Homo sapiens: one gene and its partners. The protein of the gene in region 1 purifies or fractionates together with the protein of each later gene. This does not show direct contact. Each region holds a gene or a part of one and is shown in the gene's direction. Other genes may lie near its edges. The genes, in order: AP3S1, FNDC3A, BTK, EPB41L1, ESF1, SPG7 and EPB41L3.

The links.
Region 2: the proteins of AP3S1 (region 1) and FNDC3A purify together in Homo sapiens (affinity purification with mass spectrometry; one large-scale study listed by BioGRID and IntAct). This does not show direct contact.
Region 3: the proteins of AP3S1 (region 1) and BTK purify together in Homo sapiens (co-immunoprecipitation; one large-scale study listed by IntAct). This does not show direct contact.
Region 4: the proteins of AP3S1 (region 1) and EPB41L1 purify together in Homo sapiens (co-immunoprecipitation; one large-scale study listed by IntAct). This does not show direct contact.
Region 5: the proteins of AP3S1 (region 1) and ESF1 fractionate together in Homo sapiens (co-fractionation; one large-scale study listed by BioGRID). This does not show direct contact.
Region 6: the proteins of AP3S1 (region 1) and SPG7 purify together in Homo sapiens (affinity purification with mass spectrometry; one large-scale study listed by BioGRID and IntAct). This does not show direct contact.
Region 7: the proteins of AP3S1 (region 1) and EPB41L3 purify together in Homo sapiens (affinity purification with mass spectrometry; 2 studies listed by BioGRID and IntAct, with this or other methods). This does not show direct contact.

Annotation. Positions count from the first base shown.
Region 1 is NC_000005.10:115,865,935-115,869,434, forward strand, and holds part of AP3S1 (AP-3 complex subunit sigma-1), read left to right. Parts: intron 1-735; coding exon 736-827; intron 828-3,500. UniProt on the Homo sapiens protein: Part of the AP-3 complex, an adaptor-related complex which is not clathrin-associated. The complex is associated with the Golgi region as well as more peripheral structures.
Region 2 is NC_000013.11:48,978,912-48,982,411, forward strand, and holds part of FNDC3A (fibronectin type-III domain-containing protein 3A), read left to right. Parts: intron 1-3,500. UniProt on the Homo sapiens protein: Mediates spermatid-Sertoli adhesion during spermatogenesis.
Region 3 is NC_000023.11:101,372,692-101,376,191, reverse strand, and holds part of BTK (tyrosine-protein kinase BTK), read left to right. Parts: intron 1-877; coding exon of another isoform or gene 878-907; coding exon 908-1,048; intron 1,049-1,557; coding exon 1,558-1,656; intron 1,657-3,500. UniProt on the Homo sapiens protein: Non-receptor tyrosine kinase indispensable for B lymphocyte development, differentiation and signaling. Binding of antigen to the B-cell antigen receptor (BCR) triggers signaling that ultimately leads to B-cell activation.
Region 4 is NC_000020.11:36,230,520-36,233,299, forward strand, and holds the end of EPB41L1 (band 4.1-like protein 1), read left to right. Parts: 3' UTR 1-2,280; downstream 2,281-2,780. UniProt on the Homo sapiens protein: May function to confer stability and plasticity to neuronal membrane via multiple interactions, including the spectrin-actin-based cytoskeleton, integral membrane channels and membrane-associated guanylate kinases.
Region 5 is NC_000020.11:13,778,420-13,781,919, reverse strand, and holds part of ESF1 (ESF1 homolog), read left to right. Parts: intron 1-3,500. UniProt on the Homo sapiens protein: May constitute a novel regulatory system for basal transcription. Negatively regulates ABT1.
Region 6 is NC_000016.10:89,549,903-89,553,402, forward strand, and holds part of SPG7 (mitochondrial inner membrane m-AAA protease component paraplegin isoform 1 precursor), read left to right. Parts: intron 1-591; coding exon 592-707; intron 708-3,076; coding exon 3,077-3,233; intron 3,234-3,500. UniProt on the Homo sapiens protein: Catalytic component of the m-AAA protease, a protease that plays a key role in proteostasis of inner mitochondrial membrane proteins, and which is essential for axonal and neuron development.
Region 7 is NC_000018.10:5,397,498-5,400,997, reverse strand, and holds part of EPB41L3 (band 4.1-like protein 3), read left to right. Parts: coding exon of another isoform or gene 1-29; intron 30-2,854; coding exon 2,855-2,977; intron 2,978-3,500. UniProt on the Homo sapiens protein: Tumor suppressor that inhibits cell proliferation and promotes apoptosis. Modulates the activity of protein arginine N-methyltransferases, including PRMT3 and PRMT5.

The DNA of each region.
Region 1 (3,500 bases):
ATTACAGGCACGTGCCACCACACCCAGCTATTTTTGTATTTTTAGTAGAGACGGGGTTTCACTGTGTTGGCCAGGATGGTCTCGATCTCCTGACCTTGTGATCCACCCATCTCGGCCTCTCAGAGTGCTGGGATTACAGGCATGAGCCACTGTGCCCGGCCAGGACGCTGACTCTTACTGGAATATGAATTGCTTGGTCCAGGTTAATAAATGTTTATTGACCCAATCCTTGGCTTTAGATCGGCTTATATAAAGATGAGTAAGATGGATGGACTCTTACCTCAGTCTATATTTAGTAAAGGTTAAACTTAATTGGAAGCTCCATAGTTCTATTTCTTTCCTCCATTCAAATATAGATTAGCTACACTATTTATATCTTTACCTTTCTGATTCAGTTTACTCATTTGTAAGATAATCAGCTTTGACTAGTTAATATCTAGTTTCCCTTTTACCAGTGTATGTAATTCATCTAATATTTTTTCTTGTTGGTTTTTGAAACTTAGAAATGTGTTACTTTTATTATAGTGGTAAATATAAATAATTGGGTTTTTTTTCTTTTTCATCAAAAAATACTGGGTTTTGCTTCTGTAAGGTATAATTTAAGTCACTTCTCCAAGGACCCCTCTCTTAGATGGATTTCCCAGACAGATATTGCTACCTTTGATTTTAAAAATTCTTAAAATGCTATTAAACCTATACACTCCATCCTAATATATATGAATTATTCTTCCTCAGAGTGAAGATACACAACAGCAAATCATCAGGGAGACTTTCCATTTGGTATCTAAGAGAGATGAAAATGTTTGTAATTTCCTAGAAGGAGGATTGTAAGTAAAGCATTTCATAGACATTTCTAAGTTTTGACTATGTGATTAAAATATATACTGTTTAATCAGTTTATGGTAAAAGTTTTCTACTTTTGATTAATTGGATTAGGTGAATTAATTGCCACCTATGTTAGCTATAAATCTAACTTAAAGAATTATTTTTAAAAGATATGCAATCTTTTTTCCTCTTAAAAATTTTGGAAGGGAATTTTATATAAAGGTAATATATTAAATCGTAAAAATTCCAACATTACAGGGAAGTATAAAATGTAAAATAAGAATCTCTCAACCTTAGTCCTTCTACCCAATTTCTTGTGTATCCTTCTAGAAAATAGTTTGTATTGACTAACATATAAAGTATGTTATATGTGTTGACTAACCTACAACCTTAAAATTTTTATTTATGAGATCACACTTTGTATGCTCATTTGCATGTTGCTGGTTCTCAGTATTTTCAAAAGCTTTGCATAGAAACACATCTAGGACAAGCTTATTCTTTTTAATGACTACAGAGTATTCCTTTTTGTGAATGTTCATAAAAATTAGATTACATTCTTTATTTTACTGTTACAAGACTGAAGTCTGTTTTTCAAATATACCTAATTCAGCTAATCAATTTTTCTATTTTTAAAATGAATAAGAATATTGCCAAATATTACAAACAAATACTTTTAAACTAATAACTTCCATGAAAATGGTTTGTTCTCAAACATAAATCAGTCAGAGAAACTTAGAATTTTCTGTATTTTACTGTGTATGATGGATGAGAAATACTCTGGATAACAGGGAATCCATGGTCATAAGGTACTTTTTATCATGTGGAACACTTAACTTGGGTTTCCTGAAAGATTATATCATGCTGTCCTTAAATGTCCAATACATACTTACAAATTTTGCTGTTAACTCAAGGCTTCTAATTTAATAATTGAGACAAGTGTACCTGCTTCTGTTTTTGAATTTTACTTGTACTTATTTAATTTTAGTTGTCTTTGACATTACTATCACTTCCTCTCATCCTAGCCTCTTGATTTCTTATCTCCTAGGAAACTTACCACCCAGCACAGTGCACTGCATGTAAGAACTTGATTAATCTTACTAGGGTGCTATTTGAATTAGAAATTGTGGCTGGAAATTGTGATTGTTCTTTTTTAACCTTACAAAAAATAGAAAGCAAATATTGCAGCAGAGATGAGGCCTCACATCTAGTTTAATCCTAGTTTTGTCACTAACTAGCTGATTTCCTTGGACAGGTTACTTAAATTCTCAGGCCTCAGTTTTCTCCTCTATAAAATGAGTTATTTGGACTAACAGGATTTCTCAGTCCTGTGGTTTTATATGATGTATTACATTCTGTACAGGAATTTTTGTCAGTATTATACTATAGCTTAAAGATAAGATTATATTTTTAAAGGCAAAATATGTACTTGCCGCATTAATATTTTGCTTGCTTTTAATAGCATTACTGGCCTTTTTGAAACTTATATTCTTCAGAAGTTTGCTGTCCTTTTAAAGTAAAGCAAAAGTTTTAAGATAATCACTAAATCGCTGATTCAGAATGGAGTAAAGCCTCCTATTTGTGTTCTTTTTGCCTCTTTCAGGGAACAATTGCAGTCATAGTCTGTAAATATACTCTCAGAATCTTTAAATTGCATGTAGATATTTTTAAATTAAACATCTTCTCTAGAAGAGTATCTAGCATAGTAGGAAATTTTTATTCTTGTCAAAGATCATTTCTCCTTTTGCTATTAGAAGACATAGAAGTAGTATATACCTTGGGAAGTTGTTTCTACAGAACTTATAAGTTTAGTATTATTTTTACTGTGTAAGAAATAGATGCTGGCCAGGCGCAGTGGCTCACGCCTGTAATCCTAGCATTTTGGGAGGCCTAGGCGTGCAGATCTCCTGAGCTCAGGAGTTCGAGACCAGCCTGGGCAACATGGTGAAACCCCATCTCTACTAAAAGTACAAAAATCAGCCAGGTGTGGTGGTGTGCGCCTGTAATTGCAGCTACTTTGGTGGCTGAGGCAGGAGAATTGCTTGAAGCCAGGAGGCAGAGGCTGCAGTGAGCTGAGATAGCACCATTGCACTCCAGCCTGGGTGACAGAGTGAAACTCTGTCTCAAAAAGAAAGAGAGAGAGAGAGACAGAGAAAGAGAGGATGAAGGGAGGGAGGGAGGGAAGGAAGGAAGGAAGGGAGGGAGGGAGGGAGGGAGGGAGGGAGGGAGAGATGCCATTTTCCCATATTCTGTTGGGATGGATGTTAGTTTAATTTTGGTTACATATAGCCTTGATTGTAAATTATGTAAGTGTTTAGGGGTCTTTTAAGAAGGTGAATTCATTATTGTAAACTTAACTATGAAATAGCTAAACTATATTTAGAAAAATATGTTTGGAATGATTCCTAAATTATTATTTCTAAAATACTAAAATTCCAGTCATTATAAATAAAAGTATTTCATGAAAGAGTTTAGTATCTTAGCTCAGTTTTCTTGCATTTATGTCAAAACAATGTAATTTTGGAAGAGATCTTGACGGTAAATCTATCCAAAACTTAAGAAGTGTCATTCTTCTTTTTTTTCTGGTTGATAATCAGTCTTAAGCTGTGTAACTTACTGTGACGTATGGAGTTAAATCTAGTAAGCACTTACAAATGCCCCATGATCTAATTTCCGCC
Region 2 (3,500 bases), on another chromosome or scaffold:
TTTTATAATTTTCTTAATATTTTGGTCTTATTTCAGATAATTATTCAGTGGTCTCTTTTTATATCTTTATTCTTACCTTTCTGTCTTCCCACTGTTGTGGTTTTGCTTGTCTTTAATATATACTTTCAAGTTTTCTGTGTAACCTGTGGTCTTCCATCAAGTTCCTTTGTGGGTGTCATCTTTCAATGTTTCCAATCACTTATCACCCATTACCAGTCCTTGGGCTATTTTTTCCTCCAAGATTGAGAACTACACCTGGGAGATGTCATGTGCTTGCAGGGTGATGCAATGTTATTAAAGTGGGGATACAAACATAGTGTGATGTCTTCCTTCCTTCAAGTAGTTTACAAATTAGTTGGGGGTACTAGACTAATAGTATCATTAGCAAAAATTATAATATGGTATTATTAAGTTGTGTGACACCAACTGGAATTTAAAGGGAAGTGAAGCCAGTGAGAGCTAGAACAATCCTGGAAGGCATTTGGAGGGAGTCAGAGGAAACTTAGAAATGATTTAGATAACAAAAGGAAAGGCATTCCAAAAGAGATTCACAGGCAGAGTTGGAAGTAGTAGTAGAATAAGTAGTCCAAGAGCATCCAAGGACAGAAATTGGGACGAAGAAAGAAAGAAAGTTAGGTCGAGATGTTAGCTTAAGCACCAGGGCATCAGAAGAGGAAAATAGGCAGAGCTGGACAAGACAGTTTGTATCATTAGGAACCTATCACTGAAAGAACTATACCTCAGCTTTGACATATTAATAGCTTAAGCTTTATGTATAATGGATAGCTTATATGTGTTTGTTTGTATGGCTTAGGTCAGGGGTCGGCCAACTTTTTGTGTAGAGTGCTAGATAATTAAATATTTTAGGTTTTGCAGGCCATTTACAGTCTCGGTTGAATGTTCTTGTTTGTTTGTTAGTTTTTTATAATCTTTTAAAAACGTAAAAATTTTTACATTGTTGTCTCAAGAGCCAAACAAAAACAAGCCATCTGTGGACTGGATTTGGCCAGGGGACCTAGTTTGCTGACTGCTAGGTAATAATTGGCAAAGTAATTGTCCATATAGCACATACTGTGAAATTTCTTGCATCATCTTGTCTATATGGTGGTTTGGGCGTTTTATGACTATCATGTATATATTTTTCCTTATGTTATCCTAAAAAAAAAGTATGTAGAAATAAGTGCTTCTGTAATTGTTATTTTGTGGCCAGACTTCTAACAAGAGCCTAGAATAGGTCTCAGAATTAGGAAGTGAAAGACGAAAAGCCTTTGAGTCAGGCCTTACTACAGTGAAAATAGCTACACAGTGGCTTGATTTAGAATTTGTATAAGGTTAGGTGTATCAACTGCCTGTGCTGGTTTTACATTTTTAAAAACAGCTGGCAGGTTAAAAACCTTGTCTAGGATGCTGGTGGTCTGTAAGTGACAACAGAGGAGCAGGCAGTAGGGATCTTTGTTTTTAGAAGTAGTCTAGGATGAGTTAATAAAGGGACAAGCAGTTGGACATTCTGCAGTACTCCAGAAAGAATCACTCTGTTATGGAACAGTCTAATAATTGATATTTACATTGATGAGCTTGAGTCATCAAGAAAAGATTATATCATGTGCACATTAAGGCACGGAAGAAAGACCTAGAGATCTCTTTACAAATAATTAAGATTTTTTTAAGATAAGTTATGGTGATTTAAAGGATATAAGTATCAGCTGTTTTGAAAAGTAATTTACATGAAACATCTCTGAAGTTTCTAAATTTATAGATATCTATTTCTAAGGCAGTTCTGTTTCCTTCAGTATACTGTGGTTCATGTGCCATTACCAGGTGAATAGTGATGCCTCACGCTGTGGCTGCACAAATCAATTGGCTGGGGCAACTGTATTTTTTGTGGCATCAAGAGAGCAAGAATACATCATGAGAGCATTTTTTCATTAAGCAGGCATCAGTACATTCCATATATCAGGGTTAGTATTAGGTGCTGGAAAAAGTACAGATGTATAAGATGGGAAGCAACCTGGACAGAATCAGTGATGCTTCTTTCTTCCTGTTAAAAACATTAAAACCAACCAAACAAAATCATGAAACTTAACTTTTGTACTTTAATTTATTATTAGCATTTTTCATACTTAGTACATACAGTACCGTAATTTTAAGGCAATATAAAGCTTTTGATTTAAATAACAGCCTTCATAAATTGCTACTTAATACAATTTTTACTTTTTAAATTTTAGTTTAAGGAGAAATTCATGCCCTCCCTCTTTTTTTGTGAATGCTTGAAACAGCTTCACCATGCCAGCTGTTTCCATTTGCTAAACAAGAGGTAAATTAAAGTACCTTGGATGGTGACTCAAAAGTCTAGTTCTTAGTTCTAACTTCACCACTTATTACCTATATGATTTTGGGTTAGTTTCTTGCAATCTTGGTTTTCTAAGCATTAAAATAGAGAATAATATCTATCCTGTTTTCCTCAAAGATATTGTGAGAACCCACAGAGATGTTGGAAACTATAAAAGCATTAAAATACATACCATAAAAGTGCTTACATTAATGCTACTATATTGGAAGCAATGCAGCCTTTTTTTTTTTTTAAGACCAGAGTTCAAGCTTTATCCTCCAAAGTTCTGTAAACATAGTATGTTTCCAGTAAACATTCAGTTGAGCTCATTGAATTTTAGAACCTATACTTGCTTATTTTTAAAATCCTATACAAACCTGCCAGATATGTGGTGGTATTCTCATTTTACAGATGAACTATACTTCTGATTGACTTCCATATCTCTTTCTCCTTCACTTCTTGAGATCTCTTATGTGCTAGTTGCTAGAAATACAAAGTGCAATGTATACTTTGAAGTAAGCCTTGGTGTAAAAGTTACCTAAGTTTGGTAAATTAGATTGTGTATGTTAATCAGCCTCTATCAGAAATGCTGGGGGAAAAAAAAGTGTTGTATCTGTTTTCTTTCCTCAGAATCCATATTTTAATATATATTTGAACTTTTAAAAACTTAAATGATTTCGCTTCACTACTTCTTCAGTGAGGGATTACTTTAATTGGTTTATGTATATTCTAAACCGACAGACACATAATTTGGGAGGCAAAAAAATCTTACTTCTCTAGGGGTTCTAAACAGATATTTAAGTACACTTTAAATCACAGTTTAGACTTTTATTAGAAAGTAATTACGTGCTTTGCTTTATAGAAGTATATGCCATATACAGCAACTACTTTTGTTGAGCCATAACTTGAAGGATTAGTCATTTCATTTACTTTAAAATCAGTTTTTCTTAAGATTTGCTTAAATAAAAAGTGAAAATTCATAATTTGCGATTTTATGTTTAAATTTTCTAAATTTTTTTTGTTTTCTTAAGACAGACATTCTCAATTATGTCTTTGTTCTTATGACTTGATTTTTTTCCATGTAATATTTTCATTTGTAATATATACCTAAAAAAAATTTTTAGCATAGTACCTTCATAGTTTATGAAGTACCTTTTTGTTTCTTTAGTAA
Region 3 (3,500 bases), on another chromosome or scaffold:
AACTTTATTTGTCTTTCTGTGTTTCAGTTACCTAAATTGAATCCTTCTGGAGTATTGTAGGTTTGGGGAGGCTAAATAAGTTGTGTTTCATAAATGAACAGAGGTGGCATCTATATCAGTAAGACAGTTGCATCACTTTTGCATGATGCTGTCTAAAAGAACTAATTTAAGCTAAATGGGGAAAAGGTCAGAAAACAACAACTACCCCCCCCCCACCAAAACCCACCAAAAAAAATTATGTTTTCAACTTTAGAACAAATCTTCTATCCTTTGTAGCTCAGTCAGTGGGTGTGGGCAAAATCAGTTGGGCAGCAGTTAGTGTGTGTCCAGAACTGCAGGTGCAGCCTCCATATCCTTATTAGTTCCCTTGGTTACAGACCCCAGTGGGACAATGTTTGAAAAATTATATTCACCGTCTAGGAAATTGGGAACTGAAAGTCCAATATCTGCCTCAGTGGAGTTCTGGCACCTGCATTATCCCTTCTGGGTATATCAAGATCAACAGCTGCACAGATACTTTTGCTTTTCACAGATTCTACACATATCATATAAAGGTGAATAGTGTAAAGCTACCTCTACACCTTACCAAGCACACAGGTGCGTGCCATTTAACATCTAGAGCATTCCATTGCCTTATACAAGAACTCAGTTTATATGAGCTCACAACATCGAACCAATCCCCCCCCAATTCAGTGTGCATCCATTATACCTGAAACCTGACAGAGCTGGGGGCTGTGGGAGGAGGTTGGTAGGAAGAAATTATTTTGTGAGCTGTGCACATTTTTGTTCCATTTGAAACTAGGTAGCTAGGCTGAGGGGGAACCAAGAGGGATGAGGATTAATGTCCTGGGTCCTCAGGAACTTTCATTATCAACAGCACACAGGTGAACTCCAGAAAGAAGAAGCTATGGCCGCAGTGATTCTGGAGAGCATCTTTCTGAAGCGATCCCAACAGAAAAAGAAAACATCACCTCTAAACTTCAAGAAGCGCCTGTTTCTCTTGACCGTGCACAAACTCTCCTACTATGAGTATGACTTTGAACGTGGGGTAAGTTTCTCGACTATGAAAACTGAGTTTCAAGATATCAAGGACTTGGCCTTAGATCTTTCTTGGGGAAGAGGTAAATTTTCGTTGGTAGGAGGAGGGGAGTAGAATGGACCTAAGTTCTTTCAAATTCAGCAAAATATTTCCTAGCCTATAACTAGCTAAAGCCGGAAAGTCAAAGGTCCTAAGAAGCCACAAGGAAAATATTACCATGGAATCTTGGAATTGATGAGCACTCATTAAATGATTGTTGAAAATGAAATCGAAGAGTTGGAAATTGCTTCCTTACTTCCTATGAGGAAGGTACATACAGTCATTCACTCTTCCATGGTATTTGCCCTCCATTTGGTAGTCATAGATTTATAGATCTGGAAGGATTTTTTTTTCTTCCCCCACATGACAGGTCCTGGTGCCACCTCACTTTGTTGAATGATTAGATAACAAAATCTAATCATCTGGTTGCTTAATCCCTCTTAATCTTTCTCCATTTTCTTCCTCATTCTACTTCTCAGAGAAGAGGCAGTAAGAAGGGTTCAATAGATGTTGAGAAGATCACTTGTGTTGAAACAGTGGTTCCTGAAAAAAATCCTCCTCCAGAAAGACAGATTCCGGTAAGAAGAGACCAATGTCTGAGATGGGGAACAGCAGATTTGAAGAAATTTGCAACATTTAAATTCTCTGTAAATAGACTGGTGATGCTGTGCAACGTGGAACACGGTCAAGTTTCCTTTAAAAATTCTTCACTCTACCATATTGGTTATAAAGAATCTTAGCTTCTTTCCTTCATATTCAGAACATCTCACTAAACATGGAAAATTTGTTAACACAAACTTTTAAATGATGCTATATCTAGTTTTCAAACTGGTCAGAGATCATTGATTTTATTCCCTCAGTTCTCTCAGGATCAGATTTAGAGGCTTAAGTAAGTCTGAATGTCATAATCCTAGGGCTCTGAGTCACATGATATCCTTTAATACCTTACTATTTATTCTCTTCTCACTTTCCGGAGCGAGAGACATAAAACCTACTGATTTTTGAGTTCACTTTTAAAAAATATATATCAATTTCAGTATTTTCTTTTTTTCTTTTTTTTTTCTTTTTTTAGACAGAGTCTCGCTCTGTTGCCCAGGCTGGAATGCACTGGTGCCATCTTGGCTCACTGCAACCTTCACCTCCCGGGTTCAAGCAATTCTCATGCCTCAGCCTCCCAAGTAGCTGGGATTACAGGTGTGCACCACCATGCCTGGCTAATTTTTCGTATTTTTTTAGTAGAGACGGGGTTTCACCATGTTGGCCAGGCTGGTCTTGAACTCCTGGCCTCAAGTGATCCGCCTGTCTCGGCCTCCCAAAGTGCAAAGATTACAGGCGTGAGCCACCCACTGGGTCTGACCATTTTCAGTATTTTCTTGATCACAGGAGAATTGCGTATTTATTACAGAAACTCTGGAATATATAAAAAATACAAAAAGATTAAAATGATGCATAATCCTGTTACCCAGTTAAAACAACTATCAACATATTGGTGTACATAGACTTACAGATGTTTTTCTTCACTGAGAACACATACGCATACACTTATATATATGTCATATATTTAAAACATAGACTCATAGTACACATCTTGCTTTGTAACGTACTTTTTCAATGTAACGATATGTGGGAAACTTTTCCCCATGACAATAGATATTCTTTAATAACATGATTTTAATGACTGTATGGTATTCCCTATTATGGATGTATTGTAATTTGTTTAATCTCCCATTATTACACATTCGGTTTGTCTACAAGTACTTGATAGTATAAACCATGTTGAGAGGAACAATCTTGCATACATCTTTCTGTACTTTTTTTATTCTTTTCCTTATGATAATTTCCTAGAAGTAAAATTTTGTTCTTCTCTTTAAGAAAATCTGTGCACTTTGGTTATTTTTATCTTTTTATTTCATTTTCTAGAAGTGGAATTGAATTTCATACACACCTACAAGCTATGTATGAGAGTGCCTGTTTCTGTACATTTTTTCCAACACTAGATATTTTGTTATTTTTATTATTATTATTATTTTCTGAGATGGAGTCTCGCTGTGTCGCCCAGGCTGGAGTGCAGTGGTGCGATCTCCGCTCACTGTAACCTCTGCCTCCGGTTCAAGTGATTCTCCTGCCCCAGCCTCCTGAGTAGCTGGGACTACAGGCGCCCACCACCACACCCTGCTAATTTTTGTATTTTTAGTAGAGATGGGGTTTCACCAGATTGGTCAGGCTGATCTCAAACTCCTGACCTCAAGTGATCCTCCCACCTCGGCCTCCCAAAGTGCTGGGATTACAGGCGTGAGCCACTGTGCCCAGCCCAACACTAGATATTTTAAATATTAGTTAATTTGACAGCCAAGAAAAATAGCATTTCAGGTGGGGCGTGGTGGCTCACGCCTGTAATCCCAGCACTTTGGGAGGCCAAGGC
Region 4 (2,780 bases), on another chromosome or scaffold:
GGGGTGGGGGGCCCTAATGGAGAGGTGTGGGTTTGGCAAGAAAGAAGCAACACAGATGTCGTCCCCAAAATGCCAGTTCAAGACACCTTCTCCCTGCCCCCCTGGTAGTAACAGTCAGGGCCTGGTCTGTGCTCAGGTACTGGGTCCCAGTCTGGGACTCTGCTGCTGAAGTTGCCACAGTAGAGGTCCCTGGCTTAGTCCTTATCTCCCTACGGGGCTTGCCTTGGTTTTCAGTCTTCTCTCTCTTTCTCTCTTTTTTTTTTTTTTGCCACATTCTGCCCTTCCCTGACCCCATTGTAATAACCAACTCCATATCCAAAGGGAGGTGGTGCTCTCAGCCATTGTAGAAGATGGTGGCTTTAACCTGACTGTCTAAAAATTCCCAGCTAAGCCTTTTCCTCTACTCTCTTCCTTGTTCTGAATCATTTCTTCTTCTCAGGCCAAAGTAGCCATGGTAAGGAGGCTTCATGGGGCAGACCCTGAAAGATCAAAACTGCATTTGCAAAGCCCTCCCCTGTCCCAGGACAAAGCTGAGACTGACGGGTGATGTTGCTCATAGGCTCCAGCTCTGCATAAGACCTTGGCTTGGAGACCTCCCTCTCAGTCAACAGCTGAACTCTGAGCTTGTGCCCAGAAATTACCCCAAGACCACAGGAACCCTTCAAGAAGCTCCCATCACAAGCTTGGCATTGCTCTCTGCCACACGTGGGCTTCCTCAGGCTTGTCTGCCACAAGCTACTTCTCTGAGCTCAGAAAGTGCCCCTTGATGAGGGAAAATGTCCCACTGCACTGCGAATTTCTCAGTTCCATTTTACCTCCCAGTCCTCCTTCTAAACCAGTTAATAAATTCATTCCACAAGTATTTACTGATTACCTGCTTGTGCCAGGGACTATTCTCAGGCTGAAGAAGGTGGGAGGGGAGGGCGGAACCTGAGGAGCCACCTGAGCCAGCTTTATATTTCAACCATGGCTGGCCCATCTGAGAGCATCTCCCCACTCTCGCCAACCTATCGGGGCATAGCCCAGGGATGCCCCCAGGCGGCCCAGGTTAGATGCGTCCCTTTGGCTTGTCAGTGATGACATACACCTTAGCTGCTTAGCTGGTGCTGGCCTGAGGCAGGGCAGGAAATCAGAATAGCATTTGCTTCTCTGGGCAAATGGGAAGTTCAGCGGGGCAGCAGAATCAGTGGCATTCCCCCTGGTGCAGGCCGGTGGGTCCACTCCAACTCCCCCTGAGTGTAGCAGCACACTTTCCATACACCAGGTTCTTTCTACAATCCTGGTGGAAAAGCCACAGAACCTTCTTCCTGCCCTTCTTGAGAGTTCCCCCTCTTTCTGGGTCAAGAGCTGGAGTGGTGGCTCCATCCTCTCTGGGCCACTTCGGTCTAGGAACTCATCTTTGCAGGAACCAGGAGTCCTGAGCACACTGAACACACCTCAGAGGGAGGATCCTTGTTGTGGATTTTGCACCTGGCTTTGGGGCAGGGGTGAAGTGACCAGGCTTAGCTTGTGGAGTTTATGGGCCACCAGGGTTTGGGGAAATCACCATCCCGCGGATGCTGTGACCTCCCTTCTACGGAGATGCAGGCAGTGCCACGAGGGAGGAGGGGACCTGCAAAGCTAGAATCTAGGGCACTGTTTCCTCCCCATCCTTCTCTTTGTAGAGAATAGAGACGTTTGTCTTGTCTGTCTTCAACCTACTTTTCCTTTTCTCTTTTTTGTTTCTCATCCTCTCTGTGCCACCTCTCCACCCAGGAGGCCATGTAGCATAGTGGAAAAAGTCCCTGAGGGCGGTTAGGAGTTCTGGGTGACCATCCTGGCTCAGCTCCTAACTCACCATGTGACATCAGGCTATCCCCATTCCCCCTCTTGGGCCTCAGTTTCCCGACTTGCAAAATAAGCAGAAAGAACCAGATGCTCTCCAGGGTCTTTTTCTACTTTGCTATCTCATGGGTCTTCATTTTCTCTTATTTTGTTTTCTCTGGATCTTTTCCATCTGAGGGTACAGGAAGTACCAGGACCTGTTTCAGTTTTTGAATCCTGCAAGCACATTCCAAGACTGGCCTGAAACTGCATGAGCAACATCACTCGAAATAATTTTTTTTTTCAAAAGCACCTTAACAACCAATTGCGATGCTGTCCTGTTCCTTTTTACTCACACCCTTCTCTCCTTTCTCGTCCCCATGCTCCCCCACCTCAGTGCTCCGTGCTGTATGCGTGTGCTCTCTGTTCTTGTATACTCAATATAAGTGAAATAAATGTGTTTGATGCTGAACCATACTTCCTTGGCACCTCTCCTCTCTCTCTCTCTCTCTCTCTCTCTCTCTCTCTCTCTCACTGTCTCTCTCTGACTTTGGCCACTGGTACAAGTTGGCACTGTGGGAGGGGCTAAAACTGAAGTGGAGACATCCCAACTTAGAACATGTTTATGCAACAAATATTTGGAACTCAAGGTGGTCCAGGCCTTGGGTGACTCTCCAGGCACAACACAAACAAGACAAAAGTCCCTGCCCTTCATGAACCCACAGGCTAGTGGAGGAAACAGATGCCAACACAGGCAAACAGTCCGTTACAGAGCACTCAGCACTAGGAAGGAAATACACCGGGAGAAGGGAAGGAGGGTCACTGAAGGAGACCACTTTAAATACAGTGGCCAGGTAAGGCCTCCCTGAGGAGGCGATCTGTGAGCTGAATGAAAAGAAGGATCAATCAACAAAGGCGAGGAACTTTGGTGCACATTCTAGGAGAGGGAACAGTAAGCATACAGGCCCCAGGACGTG
Region 5 (3,500 bases), on another chromosome or scaffold:
GGCTGACAGAGCGAGACTCTGTCTCAAAAGTAAAATAAAATAAATAGGGTAAGTAGGACTCCGTCTCAAAAATAAAATAAGAGGGTAAGTAGAGTTGAGTACTCATTCATTAATTTGTTCAGTTGCTTTGCCACTAGTATGTGGCAGGCAGAATATGAGTAAGGCGTCGTCACCCATCTCAGGGCTGTCGCTAGCTTATATGATGCCTTTATGCAAATTAGAAAAAGGCATGCTCTCTGGACACACAGAGCTCCCAGGGGTCACACTTTGGTGAAGAGATGGCGCCTTTGAAGCAACAGATTTTTTGCCCCTGAGCAGACACAGCCCCCTCCAGAGTGCATGGCTTGGTGAGTGTAGGATGGCCTTGATTTTAGCCCTTCTTGTCCTTTTATAAATGCCCCTGTGCGGATAACAGCCTGCTAAACTTTGTGCAGTGGCCCCTGTCTAAAGCAACATTGTCTAGTAGAAATACATAATTTTGGATTTTCTAGTAACCACATTAAAAAGTAAGATGAAACAGGTAAAATTATTTTAAATAATATATTTTATGTAACCCAATATATCAAAATTATTTCAATATGTAATCAATATAAAAGTCAATGTATATTTTACATCCCATTTTCTACTCATTTCATACTAATACTATTTTCATATTAATGTCAAGTTAGACAAAACGCATTTCAAGTGCTCCGTTACCACATGTGACTACTGGCTACCATATTGGACAATATAGATCTAAAGTAGAAGAAAGTCAGAACCATAATACAAAATGCAATAATAGTAAGTGCCGTAAAAGATGTTTAGCAGAAAGCCATGGAAATCTGGAGGAAGAAGTCACTCAAGATGTGGTAATCAGAAAAATTCATAGGGGACGCACTACTTTGGGGTGTGGAAAAATTTAAGTTTGAGGACCAGAGTGTGCTACATGGAAAGAACTTTTTGAGCAAAGATGTGATTGGGCATGTTCAGAAGAGGTCAGTAGTCCCGTTTGATTAGATAATAAGGTCTTGAAGGGCCAAAATGAGTAGCAGCGAGAAATGATTGTTTGGAACTAGGTGAGAGACAGCTGGCTCTAGTTTGCATTACGTGTTTACTAATTAAAATTTTTTGTCACCTCCAGCAGCAAGCAATTTTGAGTGTTGATGTTGCTGATAGTTGAAGATGTAACTGAAAACCAGTAGTAGTTCACATGAGCCAGACCTGTGATTACAGGATCCAAGGAGGGGTCTTGATAGGCCGAGAGGTCTTGATAGGCCAAGAGGTCTTGATAGCCCAAGAGTTCTTGATAGGCCAAGAGGTTTTGATAGGCCAAGAGGTCTTGATAAGCAGAGATCACACTGTGAGGGTAGAAGGTATCAGGCAGTGGAGTGAATTCTGGATAGCAAGGACTAGGGAGTCAGTGGTGGTATCCCATTTTACATTTGTAGTGGAACCAGGCAGCAGACCTCTTGAGGTGTGGGAAGAAAGGATAGGAATCCGGTTACTAAAATTGAAGAATAAGATTGGAGTGGGACCGGCAGCAAAGTTGATTTGACACTGAATTAGTGAGGTAAGTTAGTCTAGCATCCACTTCATTTGGGGCACTGAATTAATATAACATAGCTATATAATCCTTTAGATTGATTTTACAGACTTTTTTACATATCTTTTCTCATTTAATTTTCTTAGTTACCTTGAGCAATAAGACTGTATCAGCGAACAAGATTAAAGTGACTTATGTAAGGACATGCAGACCTGGAACTGCAACTCAAGTCTTCTGACTCCTTCTACCCCACCACATTGCTTGCAGTAATTTTGTTGGTTCCACAGTCTAGGAAAGGCATTACTCATAAATAAGGATTACACGGCTCCATATATAATCTTCTGTTCATTATCCATTCATCAGTTATTACAGCAATTACTGTGTGCAAGGGCCTTTTTAAGTGCTGTGAAGTAAAGGTGATGTGAGGACTTGCAGTGTGATATTTGTCATCATGAAATGTTCATGCCCAGCACTTGCACTCCTCAGAATCTATTTTACATAAATAATTGGATGTGTGCAAAGAATGTGCATTGCAGCATTATTTTTAAAATAAAACGGTAACTGGCTGGGCACAGTGGCTCACCTTTATAATCCCAGCACTTTGGGAGACCGAGGCGGGTGGATTGCTTGAGGTCAGGAGTTTGAGACCAGCCTAGCCAACATGGCAAAACCCGGTCTCTACTAAAAATACAAAAATTAGCTGGGCATAGTGGTGCACACCTGTAATCCCAGCTACTTGGGAGGCTGAGGCACGAGAATCACTTGAACCCAGGAGGTAGAGGTTGCAGTGAGCCAAGATCGTGCCACTGCACTCCAGCCTGGGCAACAGAGCAAGACCTTGTCTCAAAAAATGAAAATAGAAATTAAAATGGTAACAAATCATTAAGAGATTAATTAAATATATGCAAACATCTGTGATCTATGAAGTTTTAAAAATAGGTTCCAAAATAACGATATGACCAGTTATTTTAAACAAATTAGTATTTAAATTAAAGAAAAGAAATTTAGGGATATGGTTGTATACTAAAATAACCAGTTATCTTTGAATGAAAAATTACTGCTAGTCACCTTTGTTTTATTTATTAACCATATTTTCCTAACTTTTTTTGGTTTGTAATGATCATTCATTATGTTTATAATTGGGGGAAAATGGTAAAGCAGTTTTTTTGGTTTTTTTTTGTTTTTTGTTTGAAGTAGCTGGATAAGTAGTAATGTTTACAGTCACTACTAGAGCAATACTGTCTAGGAATAGAGACATTTATATTTGTGTAACCCCACATTATCTTGCACAAGGCTGTGTACATTGTGGGCTCTAAGCAGATACTTTTTGGGGTTTTTTATTTTTATTTTTGGAGACAGGGTCTCGCTCTGCTGCCCAGGCTGGAGTGCAGTGGTGCAATCACAGCTCACTGCAGCCGCAACTTCCTGGGCCCAGGTGATTCTCCCACCTCAGCCTTCCGAGTCACTGGGACCACAGGTGCACCCCACCATGCCTAGCTAATTTTTGTATTTTTGTAGAGACAAAGAGTTTTGCCATGTTGCCCAGGCTTGTCTCAAACTCCTGGGCTCAAGATCCTCCCATCTTGGCCTCCTAATATGATGGGATTACAGGCGTGAGCAGCTGTGCTCGGCTGCAGATACTTATTGAATGAATAAATACTCTGAATGCAGTTGATATTGTTAAAAACATTGAAATGGAAGACCTCTTTAAGTCTCTTATGCAACACTTTATTATTATATAACCCAAAGTGTGGTATGTGTACCATTGTCATAAGTGAGAAGATTTTTGATGATACTCAAACTTCTAAAATATTAATAGTTATGTACTGTGTCAACATCTTAGAAAACAATGTAATTACCCTATCACTTCTGTGACTTTAGGAATATTGTTTAGAGCAAAACTAACTTTTAAAAAATTCAATTTAATAAAAAAATGATATTCAAAAATCATGAAAATGGTATAATGACTGACAGTTGA
Region 6 (3,500 bases), on another chromosome or scaffold:
GGGCAGGAGGAGACACTCCTCAGAGGGTTGCACTTGTTCCTAAAAGCAGCAGGAGCTATTTCGATGATTGCAACATTTATAAAAGAAGAAATCACGACCTCCTTCAACAGCCCTTTGACCTGAAGAGTGTCGTTTTGAGTTGGGGTGTCCAGAGCCGCAGCTGCAGCTCCAAGAGGCAGATGTGCAGAGAGAGGCTTGCTTTGACCACACGGGGCAGGAGCAGGGCCCAGCCAGGGAGAGGCCGGGGTCTCAGCTCACCCCCCCGTCATTCTTTTTTGTTTGTTTTTTGAGACGGAGTCTTGCTCTGTCGCCCAGCCTGGAGTGCAGTGGCATGATCTTGCCCTACTGTAACCTCCGTCTCTCAGGTTCAAGTGATTCTCTTGCCTCAGCCTCCCAAGTAGCTGGGACTGCAGGCGCCCGCCATCACACCTAGCTAATTTTTCTATTTTTAGTAGGGACGGGGTTTCACCATATTGGTCGGGCTGGTCTCGAACTCCTGTCCTCAGGTCATCCGCCCGCCTTGGCCTCCCACAGCGCTGGGATTACAGGCGTGAGCCACCGCGCCCAACTCATACCCCGGCATTCTTTCAGGGACTGCCAAAAAGAGCAAGATCCTGTCCAAGGAAGAACAGAAAGTGGTTGCGTTTCATGAGTCGGGCCACGCCTTGGTGGGCTGGATGCTGGAGCACACGGAGGCCGTGATGAAGGTGGGTCTTGGCAGGTGCCGGCTCCACGGGCCTTGGCCAAAGGTGGGTGGGGAGTCCCGCCTGTGTCTGTAGCTGACTGGGGAGTCCCGCCTGTGTCTGTAGCTGACTGGGGAGTCCCGCCTGTGTCTGTAGGTCATGTGAGAGGAAAGCCTGCCACTGTCATGATCCATGGAGCAGGGTGGGTGGCGACTGATGGGCGGGAACTCGGACGTGGGAGGCAGGAGTGGGCTGTGTCACATCGGAGCATGGTGCTGCTACTGGGGTGACTCGTGGAAGGTTACACCATGCAATGGGGTTTCGCTGCCTTTGCCTGTCCACCCCAAATGACTCCTAACATTGGAAAGAAGTGAGTTGAGTGTACATTTAAAAAATACTATTCTAGGCTGGGCATGGTGGATCACCTGAGGTCAGGAGTTCAAGACCAGCCTGGCCAACAGGGCAAAACTGTCTCTACTTCAAACAAACAAACAAAAAACTACTCTTGTAGGCAGCTGTGAACTCGATGGACATTTATTCTTACCAAATGGTGATGTTACAGCTTCTCTAAGACGTGGCTCCACCACCGGGAGTCCGAGTGCTGCCAAGAGGAGGTCTCTACTCGGAACGCAGGTGCCGTCTTTACAGTGGAGCCCCAGGAAGCCGTGCAGGTTTGAGGCTCACCTGAGAAGGCGGCAGTGCTGTGTTCCTACCTCAGGGTTCACTGCAAACAATGCATACGCTGTAGCAGTTGCCAGCTTGGTTTGTCAGTGCTGGTCTCCGTGATTGGTTCTCAGGTGTGAGTTGTAGCAAAGTTGCGTGTTAATCAGAGAGCGTCCTGCCCATCCCAGGGTCTCAGCAGGGCTGAGGCAGCGTTTGGGGACCAGATCCGTGCTGCTCCTTGGCGATGTGCACCACAGTCATGGGACCAGAGCTAGGCCCACTGTGGGGCGAGTGGACACTCAGCTGGGGGTCCCATTTATGGGACACTAAAAAACTCAGCAGTGAACACGACGTTTTAACACGGTATGTCAAGAAATCAAAATTAATGCAGGGACTTTGGGAGGCCAAGGCGGGCAGATCACTTGAGGTCAGGAGTTCGAGACCAGCCTGGCCAACCTGGTGAAACCCCATCTCTACCAAAAATACAAAAGAATTAGCTGGGCGTGGTGGTGCGTACCTGTAACCCTAGCCACTTGAGAGGTAGAGGCACAAGAATCGCTTAAACCCGGGAGGCAGAGTCTGCAGTGAGCCAAGACTGTGCCACTGTACTCCAGCCTGGGTGACAGAGCAAGACTGTCTCTCAAAGGGAAAAAAAAAGAATTTTTACTGTATTTGATGGGCAAAAGTCAGATAGTCACAATGAAAAAGTGAGTCTCTTTCCCAAGGCTCAGTGTCCTGCCAGGAAAAGGTTGTGAATTGGCTGTTATGGTTTTGGTCATTAATGCAATCATCACTGCAGCCGTTATTTAGAGCTTCTTTTTGTTTTGAGACAGGGTCTCTCTCTCTGTTGCCCAGACCGGAGTCCAGTGGTGCGATCACAGCTCACTGCAGCCTCGACCTTCCGGGCTCACACGATCCTCCTACCTCAGCCTCCTGCATAGCTGGGACTACAGGCATGCCCCACTGGTGGCTCGAGTGATTTTTATATTTTTTGTAGCGAAGGGGTCTCGTTATGTTGCCCAGGCTAGTCTCGAACTCCTGGGCTCATGCAATCTGCCCACCTCTAACTCCCAAAGTACCGAGATCACAGATGTGAGCGACCCCGCCCAGCCTAGTTTTAGATTTTAAATTAAGCGTCCTCGGGATTCTCAGAGCACTTGGATGTGGCCATCTCGCCGCCACAATTCTCAGAAGCAGCAGCTGGGCCAGCCCCTGCCCCGTCTCCGTCCGTCTCCCACTCAGCGGTTCCGTGTTGTCGAGTTAGCTCGTTGCCCCGCGCCACCTCCTTGCACACCTGATGTGGGGCTGTGGGGGAGCAGCAGAGGTGAGGACAGCCTCTGCTGCCTCAGCATCGTGGGGTTCTCATTGCTCTGAACCCTCAGTAGCTGTCGCTGGTGTGAGGGGTCAGCGCAGCGGCCATCGGGGGTGAAACTTGTCCTTCGCCTCTCAGCTGTCTTCTACGGGCCTTGTCTTCTTGACTCCCTGCCTGTCTAGTCATGTATGAGAAGACACTTCCCGGCAGTGTGTGAACAGGCACCTGTGGTGGGAACGCTGCTGTCTCTGGGCTGGCCATCTAGAGTGTTAGGATCCCCTGTTGTTGTAGAGGATGCTGCACATTTGCCTTCCTGCTTTGAGACGCTTTAATGACGGAGACCTCTTAGTCCCACACCTTCCTCCTCAAAGCCCACGCATCCTGCCTACTGACCTGGGTCATCTTGACCTTGTGCCAGGTCTCCATAACCCCTCGGACAAACGCCGCCCTGGGCTTTGCTCAGATGCTCCCCAGAGACCAGCACCTCTTCACCAAGGAGCAGCTGTTTGAGCGGATGTGCATGGCCCTGGGAGGACGGGCCTCGGAAGCACTGTCCTTCAACGAGGTCACTTCTGGTGAGGAGCAGCGGCGCGGGCCCTGGAGGTTTCAGAGCGCTTTTCCCTGCATGACTCCTTCTGTTCCAGTGCATGCCATGGGGTGAATCTGGTGTAGACGTAGCTTTGAATTTATTAAGTATTTTGTAAAAGATAAGTTGTGGTCATAAGAGAGTTGGAGCTAAGCAAGACTTCTTAGATAATTTAATTGGACAAAAACTTAACCTATATGCCAACTCTAGACACATTTAATTGGTTAATTGTTGGTAATGGCTACAGGAAACGGAA
Region 7 (3,500 bases), on another chromosome or scaffold:
AAGGAAGCGCTCCATTCCTTGAGTCTCAGGTAAAAACCAAACATAAAGGATTTTCCAGAAGAAATTGGTCTTCAGACTTCAGTGTCATTAAAATGCTCTTAGTTTTTATTTTCCCTTTAACATTTATCTTGTTTAAAACCAAGGTAGGTACATAATTTTGATTTAGATTCTGGGGAAGGGAAAATTGAATTTTCTTAATATTTTAGTTATCAGTTATGCATCATTTCTTCATGGCTTCTAATCCAAGCTGATTTTTCTCTGTATGTTGTCATTGACTTACTTTCTGATAATAATCTTGCTGAAATGTTGTTTTACTGCCTGTTTTTACCTGTAGAGTCGTGCTAATTTAGATGAAGTTGACTGATTTTGAAAGTTCTGAATTCTTATTGGTTTCCCCACTAGCCAAGTGTGATAAAGAAAATGCAGGAAGGAGACTCTGCTGACTCTGTGGTTACTTCTCGTCAAATAATTTTCCAGAAAACTGTCCCATCAACCCTAGAGGTTATTCTTTCAATTCATTTCATTTAATCTAGCAACAACATGTAGATCAATCTGTAGTGGTATTTTTAAAGGCACACGTATTTCTAGATTTAAGTTTTCAGGCTGTAAAAAACAGAAAAGTTTCTAGAAAACATTCTAGTTTAAAATGTAAACCAGGGCACTCACCTGCTCCTGGTTTGATATCTCTTCCCTCTGTAATCTGTGAAGCTATTAACCTACCTGGTCATATTGTATTATGCCTCCCTGAATACAAAAGTTTCTTAGCTTTCCTTTCTTTTGCCTTATTGGAACTAACACTAAAGAAAGTGAGAGAGAAACTCCTGAGACAGTGAACTTCAGTTGTAAATAAGATTGGAGCGGGCACAATGGCATGTGCCTGTAGTCCCAGCTCCTGGGGAGGCTGAGATGGGAGGATCACTTGAGCCCAGGGGTTCGAGGCCGACCTGGGCAACATAGGGAGACCCCATCTTTTAAAAAAAAAATGTAAGACTCGAACACTGTACAGATCACTGTAAGAGGCTCTAATAGTGTCCTATTTGTGGGAAATATTTCATTACAATGCCTTGAACACAGTCACACTCAATATTTATTGAATAATAAGTGCTATTATGGATTCATTTCCCTGTATAAAGAAATACAATTTACAAATATGGAAAATATTTACATAAATTTGTAGAATGTTGGGAAGCTCTCTGTGATAACAGTATATGAAGTATAGATTATATTTAACGAGGAAAACTTTTATCCCCACACATGTAAAGCTAAGTAACTTATAGAGCAACATCAATAATGTTATTTAATCTTGAAATATAAAATGATCCAAAATTTATCATAAGAGCAAATCTGTTCTTCAAAAAATTTACTGCAAAGTATGTTCCAGTTTAAAGAAGTTGCAACTCTACCTACCGAATGTATTCTGAGCTGAAGTTTATAGTTTATCATTTCAGAGGAGAAGAGATTGCAGCCATAATTATTAGATAATAACATGAGCACTGTATGGTCCCATCACAGACCTGCATGTAGCAGTTGCCCTGATTTTCTTAAAGGATTCTTATTTTAGAAATGAGATACCATCAGAATTTCTAATTTAGCTTTTATATTTCAAATATAGGGCACAGAGGATTGGGTTATTGTAGACAGAATACCAACTGAGGTAGTTGATGGTGATTTGAAAAAGATTGTGACTTACAAGGTGGTGACCGTGAGCAGTAAAACTGGTGATCTCCCAGCTGACATGTTAAAATCTGGCACTATTAAAATGCAAAGCTTCGAAGAATTGGCTCGAGAAATGCAACTGAAAGAAGACAGCAAACAGAAAATATACACTCTAGGAAAATCCTATGACACTGTCTCCGGGAGAATTGTTACTATGACTGGGAAAGCTAAAGAGGGTGAGAAAGTGGAGCAGCCCTCCACTACAGAAGCACTTCAGAAAATGGAGAAAGAAATACCAGAGTCCATGAAGATCATTCCCGGCCTGGCAGAATATGAGGTCCTGGAAACCCTCGCTGATGAGAAATCCAAGAGAGGACCAGAGGTCCAGACGACACAGCGGAAATTGTCCGAATCCCTGGCCCCCATCAAGGAGGCCGAGTCTCGCCGGCAGAGTCCTGAAGAAGATGACCTCAAGAAGGCTCCACAGCTGGAGAAGGATGTGGCCGTCCTCCCTGGCCTGGAAGGCAGACGCTTCAGCAAAACAGAGCAAGTGCCCGAGAGTGAGGTCTTAAAAGTGGGCCTCTTTGGTCCCCGAAGGAAGAGCCTGTCCGAATGGAGATATTCCCAGGAACCAGCCTTTACCGTTGCTACTGCCCATTACGTTACTGAGTCATCCGCCTCCCGAGTAGTGGTAACCAGTGTCACTCATTGGGGCCACAGTTTGCAATTCCAGCATGACAGTTTTTGAGGCAGTCCCCTTCCACCCCAAACCTTTCCGTTTCTCTTGCTGCTTGGCTTTATGTTGAGAGCAGCCAACCCAGCTTCTTAATTTTTTTTCATGGTTAAATCAATACCGCAGTGCAAAGTCAGCATTAAAACACTTTCCATTTTATTTCCAGCTCCCTGTTCCCAAGATGTGATAGTGCTGCTGTGGCTTGCAATGAAGGGGAAAAAATATATATATCTGCTTAAATCGGCGCCACCCTGATCCTAATAACCGTCTCTGCTTTACCAAACAAGAGCACCTGGTTTTCTATTTTATTTCCCATTCTTTTCGTTTCCAAACTCTGAGATTCCTTCGTTCTTCCTCCTCCCTGTCTCCTCTGCCTACGATTTTGTCTAACAAGCTGTGAATGTTTATGTGCCTGAGTTTGTGTCTCTCTTTTGTGCTTGACTCTGCCTCTCTTTGTTCACTCAGACTAAGCAGTCTTCTGGGGAAAAGCTCATGGATGGCTCTGAAATCTTCAGTTTATTAGAGTCTGCGCGAAAACCAACAGAATTCATAGGAGGGGTTACTTCTACTTCTCAAAGCTGGGTTCAGGTGGCCATTTGTTTTCGTCCTTGGTGTTTCTGAATGTGCCCATGTGCCTTTCCTTACCCTTTTTTTGGGCGTGAGTGTGTGGTTGCATCCAGCTGGCTTTGCCTTCAACATCTCAAAGGTGTCTTCACTTATTGTCCTTTGTGTCTGCTTGGCATATCTGTCACATGCCTTTAGTTGCATCTCAAGAATGTACTTCACTATTCGAAAGGCGATCATATTGAGAAATTTTAATAGAATTAAATATCTAAAAGCATTATGTCTCACCAGTTGAGTCTAAGAAAGCAGCCAAAACCAACGTGAATGCGCTGCAATGCTTTGGTTTTTGTTTTGTTAATTGCACTTTATCCTGCCTTCCGTTTGTTTTGCGGATGTCCTGAAGCAGCAGCGCAGGTTCAAGTGCATGCACCAGGGGCAGGGGCAGGCATCAGAGATTTCAGTGGGAGAAATGAAAGCTAATTTATATTTTTCGTCAGTGTTTCTGGTTATAAGCACTTGCTGCTGGCTTTAGACATCCTGGCGAGTG